Homo sapiens: one gene and its partners. The protein of the gene in region 3 interacts with the protein of the main gene of each other region in a pairwise test. Each region holds a gene or a part of one and is shown on either strand. Other genes may lie near its edges. The genes, in order: OTUB2, CRY2 and MID1.

Region 1 (3,600 bases), on a different chromosome or scaffold from region 3:
GCATGCTGCCGTGGTGACCCATTTTCCTGCCCAGTCATAGGAGAGAGGAGGCTAAGCTTGAAGAACCAGGCATCTGTGCACACCCATTTCCAGGACTCTGTTGTCACAGGAAAAGCTCCAGCTAATCATATCACATGGTTCCCATGACACAGATGTGCAAAACGGTGCTGAGGGGGAGAGCGGACCAACCAAAGCCTCTTCGCTTTCCAACAGGTGGAAGTGAGACTTGAACCTGGGGCTGTGTGGCCCCGACTCAAGCCACCCAGCCCTCACTCCACAGGCTCCCCCTGCTCAGGGTTGAAGGGTCTTAGGCAGCCATGCCACCCAGTCCCCTGCAGGATGCCTGACCCCACGGCAACCTGGAAGGTGAGCCGATGTAACACAAAGAGCACTGAACTGAGAGTCCAGAGCCTGGGTTCAAGCCCCAGGTCCACCACAATCAGTACCAGCCCTGCCCTGTCTGGCCTCAGTTTCCCCACCTGCCCAAGCCCAGGGTTAGCCTGGCTCAGAGGGTCTCTGGGCCTCGTTCTGCGCAGACAAGGCTCTCCATCAGGGATTCCTGAGTATTTTCTTTTCCCCGACCCCTAACTCATGCGCCTCACAACTTGAGGCATCCTCTCTAGGTGGGTCCTGACTCCAAAGATGGAGACGGTCTAGTCGCCCACGGAGCAGACGACCTGGTGCCCCGTGCAACCCCTAGATCCTCCCTTGGGGTTGGGGCAGGGGCCAGGAGGTCTTTGACGGCCGAGCCGTCGGGTGGGTGGGGCCGTGGACTGCTGACTGGGGGGCTACTTAACAAAGAGGAGGCGACCCGTAGTGCTGCAGCCTCCCTGTCCCTGCTTCCGTCGAGGGCGCCCACCCAGCGCCGTCGAGGCGGCGCCCCGGGCCACCTGGGGCGGACACGCTGGGGGCGGGGGCTCGGGGCCGAGCTGGACCTCCTCAGCTGCACATCCACGGGGTACAGGGGGGCGCGACTTGGCCCTCAGTATCCGTCCGGACTCCGTATTTCAGGGGGTCGGAAAGCGGCGGGGGCGAGCTGGGGGCTGAGCCTCGCGTCCGACCCCCGTCCCGCGGGTGCACCCGCTCCGGCAGCGACCCCGCCCACCGCGCCCCCTGCCCGCTCCCCCTTCGCGATCCCCCACGATCACTGACCATAGTGACCAGAGCCGCCAGGCCAGGTCCCGCCCCAGCGAGGAGCGATCCGGTGCGGGAATGCCGCGGGAGGCGCGGGCGGGCTCCGCCGCTGGTTCGGTGGCGGGGACCTCGAGGGCGTGGGGGCGGCGGAGAATACACCCGACCGCTCCGCAAACCAAAGGTTAGACCTCCACTGTGTCCCAGCAAGACACACGCCCTGCGATTGACGTCTCAGGCGGGCAATCAGAAGCCGGGACGCGGGACGTCATAGAAAGTGGGTGGGACTTCACGTGCCTTCAGCCTATGCGTTAGGGTCCATTTGATAGGATGCCTCCCCCTTTTAAAGACACAGGAAAGCTTTTAACTAGCAGAGGAGTTAGCTCAACCCAGAAAGACAGGTCCTCGTTTGTAAAGGCTGAAGGGCTTTTGCGCAAACCTAAAATTGGAGTCTTCTGAAGGATTAGCTGGCCGTCATTAATTCATAAACAAGGTCACATAAGTATAGTTTGCACAAGATCAGAGGATAGGCGCTTAGGGAACACGTGTCCAATAACATTAAGTATGGCTTCTATATAATATTTTATCCTCTTCCAACTCATGAATCAGTAGGTTGCCACGCACCCAGTTAATGTTTGTTGAATGAATGAATGTCCAGGATCGTTGACTCTGTGGCTCTGGAATTGTAGGGATATCCGTGAACCAGGTCTAGATGACTCATCTTGCCTACAAGCTCATTATTAATGGACATCAAAATAGGAATATTTATCATTCAAAGATTCATTCACCAGCCCTTGAGTCCTGGAGGAGCTGCTTGGGTGTGGGAGGGAGAGTTTGTAGGGGAGGGGGGCTCAGTGCATTGCATGCATCCACTTCAAAAAATTAATATTTCCAGGAGCGTGTATTGAGCAATTCCCCTTCCTGCTGCTGCCCCCCGCCCCCGCCCCCCGCGCCCCACTCTTACTACGTAAGTCCCAGGTACTGGGCTAGGCTCTGGGCATACAGACATCTGAGTCTTCCAAGCATGTATCATGTCCTGGGCAGGGAGTGTGAGGTCAATGGAGGCTCAAGGAGCAGTAACAATAGCAGGTAATTTTTTACAGTTATTTACACAGTTATGCAGAACACCTACTATGTATCAGGCGCTATCCTGAACTCTCCACATATACAGAATTATCTTACTTAATTTCCTCACAACTGGTTTAAGGGGGTAGGTCCTGTTATTATTATCCCTGTTTCACAGATGAGGAAACATGTACAGAGAGTTTACGTTCCTTGCCTTAGTCACATAGCACTGAAGTGGGATTCAGTCCCAGGCAGTGTGACTCCAGAGCTGGTTTCGAATTCACTCTGCATGTGACTACAGGGGCTGTGTTACCTGCCTCCGCCCCTGACCCCCATTTGTTTTCGGGGGGTTTCTCGCTCTTTTTTTTTTTTTAACCGCCAAGGAAGCCAGAGAGGTGACAGGAGCAGCCCAGTGCTGCTGAGCTAAGAAGTGGCCTGGCTGGGCTGGATCCCTGGACTCCTGACTCCCCAACCAGTGCTCATTCCAAGGCGTGTTAGCTTCCCTCTGTGGAGGAATGACTGAGCCAGGTTCCATGGTGTCTGAGTGAGGGGTATGGGTGAAGAGTCTTTTCAGCCAAGGCTTTGATGAGCCCTCAAGTTTGGCTGCACTAAGCCCCGAGTCCTGGGCTCACTCTCTGCCCTTCTTCAGGCCCCAGCAGTTCCAAACCAAGCCAGCATGGGAGTGTGGAAGGAGCACTGGGCTGGAGTCCATGAGGAATTCTGGGCCCTTGGGCTCTGCCACTCACTGCTGTGTGACCCCAGGCAATGCCCAGGCCCTCTCTGGTCTTCTGGTTCCTCACTCAGTGAGAGGGTTGGACAATCTGGGTGGTTAAAAATGTTTTGTTTTGTTTTGTTTTAATATTTGTAGTAATGAAGGCTTTAAACACACACACACACACACAATCTTACAAGAATCTCAGTGCATGCGTAACAGAATATTTCCTCAAATTTAGCTCAATTCGCAGGGAAAATGTAATTTCCTTAGTCTAACTAATCAAGATTCCTCGTAAGCTCTCTAAAGCCTGGTTAGAAGGAAAAAAGTTGCAGAAGGGTTCAGTGGGTTTTCAAGCTGGGTCTGCATCGAAAATGCAGACAGCGTCGTTAGGGGCCGCCCATGGCAGGGGATCCGTGTGTTCTGTCTGGAATGAATTTGCTCCAACCTTCCTGCACCCCTTCTCCCTGTTGTCCAGGTGTCTGGGTGGAGGGATCGGGGAATGGCAGCTGGGGCTTCACAAGTCCAGAGAAGCAGGAGGCTTTGGGTGTCCTGTCTTCCAGCAAAGGACCTGTGTACCTGGGTACTAGATGCCCAAGATTTGAGGGCTGGGTTCTGCTGCCCATGCCACTCACGGTCTGGCCCTTCTCAGCCTGGTCAGACCCAGAGAGCTCTCCGGGGTTGACGTCATC
Region 2 (3,822 bases), on a different chromosome or scaffold from region 3:
GGCTCCAGCCTCACCCTCTCCATGCCTCTCACCCTGGGGACCTCGCCCCTGTCCACCAGCTGCCAGAGGATATGCCACCTCTAGGGTCACACCTGAGGCCTGCTTTTCTGCCTGTCCTTCTGCTCTACATGATGGTCTGGGCTTCATTCTGGTGGGCAGTTCACTCTGTGCTTGGCTCTGCCCTCTTGGATATTGAGTCTTCTCTCCTCCTCCGGACTATCTGCACACACTTAGGCCCTTCCAGGGGCCATAGCCCAACCCCCACCCACCAGTGCCTTTTTTAGGGTGACTGACAAGCCCAAAAGGCCTGGCTGCAGGCCTTAGGTGCAATGTGGGCAGGTATGTCCCCCTTACCTTTTTATACAGGTCCCACAGGCGGTAGTAGAAGAGGCGGCAGGAGAGACAACCAAAGCGCAGGTAGGGGCTGAGGCCTGTGGGGCTGGCCAGGAGGGAGTTGGCGTTCATTCGGGGTCTCTCATAGTTGGCAACCCAGGCCTACAGCAGAAAGAGAAGGTGGCAAAAGGAAAGGCTTGGATGTAACAGAGGAAAAAATGGAGGCATTGGGTGGTTAAGGAATCTGCCTACGGTCACAGAACAGCCAGCCATGGAGCCATGGAACACTGTGCTTGTCCAGCCGATTTTGAGACGGAACCACCATCAGACCAAACAACGAGTCTATGTCATTCTCTGACTTGCTCTTTAATTTGTGGGGTGACTGTGAACACGTTGTTACTTCCCTCAGCTACGTATCTATTAAATAAGAACAAAATTTCCAATCTTCTGTGGATTAAAATGAGATATGAAAGAATTCTGAAAGCACTGAATGAACTCTCTAATTATACAGCAGGAAACAAGGCTTCTATGTTACAGAAAAGAATATCTCAGTCCCTTCTCTAGTCACTAGCGGCCCTGAGGTTGTATCACAGACACCAGGGACTTCGCATTATTGTTCAACAGCAGCTGGGGAAGGAGGAAACTTCCAATCCATTCCTGGGGACCAATGGAATCATTCATTTCTGGGGCCATGTGTCATATAACATTACTGGTCATGTTTTTATCATCACTGGTTGCTGGCATAGGACTTTACTTTCCTGACTTGCTGTTCCATGCAGTCTCTCACGACTTTTTTTATTTATTTTTTTTTCTTTTTTGAGACAGAGTTTTGCTCTTGTCACCCAGGCTGGAGTGCAGTGGCGTGATCTCGGCTCACCGCAACCTCCACCTCCCGGGTTCAAGGGATTCTCCTGATCGCCCACCTTGGCCTCCCAAAGTGCTGGGATTATAGGTGTGAGCCACTGTGCCCGGCCTATTTCCACTTTCTTAACTCCCAACATCCTCTCCTCCTCTCCATGATACTGTTTCACAACCTTGACTCTCTTCAGCCTCCTGAGTAGCTGGGATTATAGGCACCTGCCACCACACCTGGCTAATTTTTGTATTTTTAGTAGACATGGGGTTTCGCCATGTTGGCCAGGCTGGTCTCTAACTCCAAACCTCAGGTGACCACAAGGCTGGTTCCCACAAGAGTCTCCTGTGACTTCTGTGCCACTGAGTCCTGCAGGCACTTTCTGACCTTGTATTTTGGGATCTCTCAGCAGCGCTATACCTGCCAACTGTGCTGTCTTATCCTCTTGATTCCTTGGCCTCTGTGACTCCACATCTCCTGGTATCTCCCAGCTGCCTGGCGCTCTTGGTCTTTCATCAGCTCCACCTCCTCTGCCTCTCCCTTAAATGTGGGTACCCAGGGCTCAGCTCTAGGTTCTCTACTCAACTGTGTGCCTCAGCAAGCTCATCCAGGCCCATGGCTCCCAGTTCCACCCCTTTGCAGACAACCACCACATCCATAGCTCTAGCCCAGATTGCTCCACCCAGCTGCCTGCTAGAAACCTCTACTTGGCTGCCTCTCAGGCAGCTCAAGGGAGATGTGCCCTTTTCTTTTAACCCACCCTTCCATTGGCCTCCCTACCTCAGATAATACACTGCTAGCTACCTAGCTGCCCAAGGCACAATCCTAGCCATCACCTTTGTCCCCTCACCAAGTCCTGTCAATTCTACTGCCTAAATATTTCCCAAATCTGTCCTTTTCTTTCCATTCCCTGCTGCCACCAACCTGGTTCAGGCTAAGGTCATATCTAGACTGGACAACTGTGGCAGCCTCCTGACTGGCCTCCCTGCGTCCACTCCCATCCCCCGCTAACTCATTCTCCACGCTGGGACCAGAGTAATGTAATGCCTGTTGCTCGGGATAATGTACACAGTGGGCTTCCTGTTGCTCTGAGGACAGAGCCCAAATCTTCATGAAAGCTTCTGTGGCTCCCCAGCACCCAGGCCTTTCCAGCTCTGTCTCTTGCCCCTTTTTTTTGAGACAGGGTCAGGGTGGAGTGCAGTGGTGTGATCTCGGCTCACTGTACCCTCCGCCTCCTGCTGCCCCTCTTCTTTACGCATCTGCTCTCACTGGCCTTTGCCTCTGCACAAGCAGCTGCCTCTGGACCACTGTCTTCCTTTCCCTCACCTTCACCTGGTTAACTGAGACTCTTCCTTCAAGTCGCAACCTCAAGGCTTCCTCCTCTGCAGGTAACCCCTGTGGTATCAGGTTAAGCACTTCTAACAGATACTAGGTATTTTTGCGTGTACACACCCTTGCTAGCCCCCAGCTTTTAAAATATTTTTATTTTAAATGAAACTTGGATACAGAAAATCACACACATGTGTGACTTAATGAATTATTCTAAGGCAAACATCCACGCAATAGCCACCAAGGTTTGGGAAACAGAGCTTTGACAGCCACCCCAAGAGTCTATGTGCTCATCCCAGGAATAGTTCCCTCCTGCCCCCCAGTATATGCAACCCCTACCTCAGCTTTTATAATAAACACGTTCTGCATTTCTGAAATGTTTACATTTTTCTATTTTGGCAAAACGTTTGAAAGGAAGGACTTTATCTTTTCACAGTTATTCTTTGTGTTTAAGTAGCTTTTTTTTTTTTACCCAAATGTGCATTCCTAGGTATTACAATTTAGTCTTGGCCATTTAAAAAACTTTATTTCTGCCCGGGTGTGGTGGCTCATGCCTGTAATTCCAGCACTTTGGGAGGCTGAGGCAGGAGGATCACTTGCGGTCAGGAGTTTGAGACCAGTCAGGCCAACAGGGTGAAACCCTGTCTCTACTAAAAGGACAACAATTAGCCAGGCATGATTGTGGGAGCCTGTAATCCCAGCTACTCAGTTTTCTTTTTTTTTTGAGACAGAGTCTCATTCTGTCAACCAGGCTGGAGTGCAGTGGCATGATCTCGTCTCACTGCAACCTCCGCCTCCCAGGTTCAAGCGATTCTCGTGCCTCAACCTCCCAAGTAGCTGGGATTACAGGCACTCGCCACCATGCCTAACTAGTTTTTGTATTTTTAGTAGAGATGAGGTTTCACTATGTTGGCCAGGCTGGTCTCGAACTCCTGACTTCAAGTGCTCCACCTGCCTCGGCCTCCCAAAGTGCTGGGATTCTTTTTCTTTTATTTCTGAGACCCCACTCTCTGTCACCCAGGCAGGAGTGCAGTGGCATGACTTCCTGGGCTTAAGTGATTCTCCCACCTCAGCCTCCCAAGTAGTTGGCACTACAGGCACATGCTGCCACACCCGGCTAATTTGTTTTTATTTAGAGATGAGGGCTTGTCATGTTGCCCAGGCTGGTTTTGAACTCCTAGGTTCAAGAGATCCTCCTGCCTTGGCCTCCCAAAGTGCTAAGATTACAGGTGTGAGTCACTGTGCCTGGCCTTAAAAAAAACTTTAATATGTTATTTAATTTTCTTTTAATCTGCACATTTTATGCC
Region 3 (3,822 bases):
AACTTCTTTGTTCCAGCTAAGGACCTTTGTCAAAAATGTTTTGCGTTCCTCTTTTTCCTTTTCAATCCTTTCCAATTACCCTTCTCCTTCCTTTTCCTCATCCCACTTTAGTAGACATTAAAAGTATGAGGTTGGACTGTGAGTTTGCAGAACTTAAAGACGTCCTCCCCACAGTCCCTACCAAGGCAAGGGCAATTCATTGCAAGCAGACGGCACTTGCTCCTCCGCAAGTGTTTTTCTGCACTCACTGAAACTTGCCAAGCCTGCTTGCTGAGCGAACAAGCGAGGGGGCAAGAAGGCGGAGGGTTTGCGCTGACCATTCGAAGGGGGCTCTGCTTCATCTCCCAAGGCTGTGGGAAAGGGACAGAAAGTTCGAAACCCCTCCCCTGCGCTCTTAAATGGAAAGCTCACTTCCCCCAAAGTGTGCAGGGTGGCGAGCACCCAACCCACTTAGAAGAAAAAGTGAAGAGCTTTTCCGGTTGCGATACAGATGCTAACTTTCCCATCCAGATTTATTCAGAGCTGGTAAAAGCAATAGCATTCCTCTTGAAATCCCTGCCCTTCCAAGCCTATTGGCATGTTTTTCCAGCCTTGTTTTCTCCTTATATGAGTATTGTTCTTGATATTTAAATATTGACATAAAATTCTTCCATAACTTTGATTGAGTTGTAAATCACACCCTCTCCTTGGCTTCCTACATCCACTTTTTCTTTCCTTTTCTTGCTTAACAGCAAAGCTATAAACCTCTTCCTGGACTGATAAGGAATTTTATCATCATGCCCCAGAGCCACAGAAGAAGCTGTTGGTTTAGAATTCTTTTCAAAGACTCATTTAAGTAATCCCCCAGCCCTTTCTCCGCTCACTACTTTCAGGGCTGCCTTCTCACGTCCAGAAGCAATACAGTTTCCAAACTGCTAGAACAGAAAAACAAATTTGCATTTTTCTGGAAGGACTGTCTGTGCTCATTTCAAGCTGGTTCCGCCTTCTCCGCCAGAAACACAGTAAGTGCTCAGAATGCGAAACCAAAATGAGATAAGAGGCCCCGTGAAATTCTTTTTCAGGACATTCAGCTGTCTTTATTCTAGCCCAAAGCATAGGGTAGAGGCACTAAAAGCTCGAGATACATCCTGCACGATACATTCCAGCGGCCGCAAACTGGAATTGATTTACATATATTCTACAAACTGCTTGTAAGCCCTTTACAACGACTGCCTGACATCAACCACAATTAGAGGCAAAAGTGGGGGCGGGTGGCGAGGACCAGACCGGGGTGGCTCAGGTAAAATGTGCTTCTTTGGTTGTCTTAGGAAAATGCAGCCCCGTCTTTCCGCCAAACGCATCGACTACGGCCAGGCGCCTGCTAACCCAGCAAGCTCTCCGCAGTAACACGTCGCAGGGGTCCCGGGCGGCGCCCGCCCCCTCCGCCGCCAGCGCAACCGCCTGAGCTTACCTGCCTCATGTTTAGAATCCCATGACCCATCCGGCAGGGAGCGAGCTGCATCGGAGCCCGCGTCGCAGTCTTCAGAGCGGAAACACCGAACCCGACAGGAGCCCGCAAGACAAAAGCAACCCGGCGAAATCTACGGGCAGCAAAGAGCACGTTTTCGTCCTCTTTTTCTTTGATCTGTTGCTACACGCACTCTGCTCGAGACAATGTCAAGTTTCTCAACCTTTTCTCCCCCAGCCTATGAAAAGTCGGTCGCAGGGAAGCGAGGACCGCCTGGCTCTTATTTCAAATCAGTTCTCAGAGACGTTGTAGGTGGCTGGCTTGGGCCGCGGAGGAGCTTCGCCAATCAGAAGCAAGGGGGTGGGTCCTGGGAGCCAGAAAGGCTGCCTCCGCGAGGATTAGGGGCGCTTTCGGGATTCAAATGACTGGAAGCAGCTGGAAACAATGTCCAAAGCTCCAAAAGTAAAGGATGAGTTCTATTCTTATCTAACAGCTCTAGTTCTGCTAAAAGCTTAACTAGCTAAGGGCCTTAAATCCTTGCATTTTAAGAGCTCCCTAACAGCATTAAAACATTTGGAAGGTGCAAAATTATTTCAGCCAGAAAAGTTCAACACTCAGGACCCAAGGGTATTTTTAAAAGGATATCTTGCACTGAAGCCCTACTTTTGCAAAAGACTGGAAAGGAAACCAAATTGTTATGAGTAACACCTTAACTAAAACGAACAATCCAGAAAGGAGGGTGTTACCTACCTCATCTGCATATAGATTAACTGTATATTCAATTTAAGAAAAATAAATCTTAATGGGAACGTGCACACAATTTTTTTGAAATGCAGCAAATGAACAAGAATCTTTACCTACTGAAGGCCCGAGGCATAATTTCAAATAACACTATTGTCATAGAACAATACACACTGACATTTTGTTCAGAAAAAAAAAAATTTAGTGCATCCACCTTTCTCTATGGTTTGGCTTCCCTACAGGGTTGATCTGTTGAACTTATTAACAGGGACAAGCTGGACATCACCTTGGCAGGATTGCAGGAGAGCTGGAGAAGTAGTTGGCTTCTTAGAAACAAACTCAGACCAAAAAAAATTTCCAAAGTTTGCTTTCTTAACTCCATATAAGCAATAACTTTTTTCAACTCTTAGCCAACATGATTTTAATGTAAATCTACCTTCTGGATTTCAAGAAAGTGCAAGTTGAGCAAAGAGTACTTTGTGTAGAACTAATGGCATATTTTCCCCCAAGAAATGACCGCAATTTTGTGACGATAATTCAATAAAGATTTTAAATGTGTTGGTATCAGAGGAAAAAAAATTACTTAGCAAATAATGCATTGGTGGCTTCAGGAGTGTCAGCTGCATGGGTTCAATACATGTGAGCTCTGCCCAGTTCTGTGAAAATTTGGTGGTCCGATAACTGGGCCTGGAAGCCCATAACGCTAGCCCCCTGCCTGAGTAGCCTAAGGAGCCACCTAGTGACACAAACTGACTTCAGTCCACTTCTTGTACTTTTCCTTGAGAGCCCTTCATATGATGGAGTTCAGGATTTCTCAATCTCAGCACTATTGACATTTTGGGCAGGATAATTCTTTGTCGTGAGGGCTGTCCTGTGCACTGTAAGATGTGTAGCAGCATCCCTGGATTCTGCACACTAGATGCCAGTAGCACCCCCACAATCGTGATGACCAATAATGTCTCCAGACATTACCAAATGTCTCCTGGGTGATGAAATCACGCTTTGAAAGGGTGGTTCTTAAACTTGAGGGTGCAAGGAAACCTCTGGGGAGATTGTTAAAAATGCAAATCTCCAGGCCCCTGCACCAAAATAATCTGATTCAGTAGGTTTGCTGAGGAGCCTGAGAATCAGCATTTTATCCCACTGACAAAGGACTCTGATTTACTTTGAGAAATATTGCGTCTATCCCAGCCCTAGGTATGCCCCAGCCACAGGACACAGGAAGCTACCCAGGGCTCCTGCCATTAAATACTGGAGCTTAATCCCATGGCACATCTGTTTATCACCTTCAGTAGAAGCTACAACTGCGTCTGCCTTCTGCTTTCATCACCTCAAAGGTAAATATGAGCTGGGATTTCCTCTCTCAAGGACTGAGCCCTTTTAATGTTCCTTCCATTTTTATTCTCCTTTGACTCACTCACCAACTATCCAACAATCTCAAATGTCACCACTCATTCGTGATTTCCCCAAATGCCCCAAGAAAAATTAATCCCTTCCATCTTCTATGCCCTTAAAGCAAAATACCCTTATAAAAGAGGTTTCAGAGAGCCTATTTGCCCCTTCTGCCATGTGAGGACACAGCAACAAGGAGCCACTGATGAAGCAGAGAGCCCTCGCCAGACACCAAATCTGCT

Evidence for each region.
Region 1: the proteins of MID1 (region 3) and OTUB2 interact in binary tests that used the Homo sapiens proteins (3 or more experiments, as listed by UniProt).
Region 2: the proteins of MID1 (region 3) and CRY2 interact in binary tests that used the Homo sapiens proteins (3 or more experiments, as listed by UniProt).

The regions. Positions count from the first base shown.
Region 1 is NC_000014.9:94,024,093-94,027,692, reverse strand, and holds the start of OTUB2 (ubiquitin thioesterase OTUB2), read right to left. Parts: upstream 1,354-3,600; 5' UTR 1,156-1,353; coding exon 1,153-1,155; intron 1-1,152. UniProt on the Homo sapiens protein: Hydrolase that can remove conjugated ubiquitin from proteins in vitro and may therefore play an important regulatory role at the level of protein turnover by preventing degradation.
Region 2 is NC_000011.10:45,864,285-45,868,106, reverse strand, and holds part of CRY2 (cryptochrome-2), read right to left. Parts: intron 496-3,822; coding exon 355-495; intron 1-354. UniProt on the Homo sapiens protein: Transcriptional repressor which forms a core component of the circadian clock.
Region 3 is NC_000023.11:10,618,840-10,622,661, forward strand, and holds the start of MID1 (E3 ubiquitin-protein ligase Midline-1), read right to left. Parts: upstream 1,747-3,822; 5' UTR 1,451-1,746; exon of another isoform or gene 1,308-1,450; intron 1,002-1,307; exon of another isoform or gene 862-1,001; intron 1-861. UniProt on the Homo sapiens protein: Has E3 ubiquitin ligase activity towards IGBP1, promoting its monoubiquitination, which results in deprotection of the catalytic subunit of protein phosphatase PP2A, and its subsequent degradation by polyubiquitination.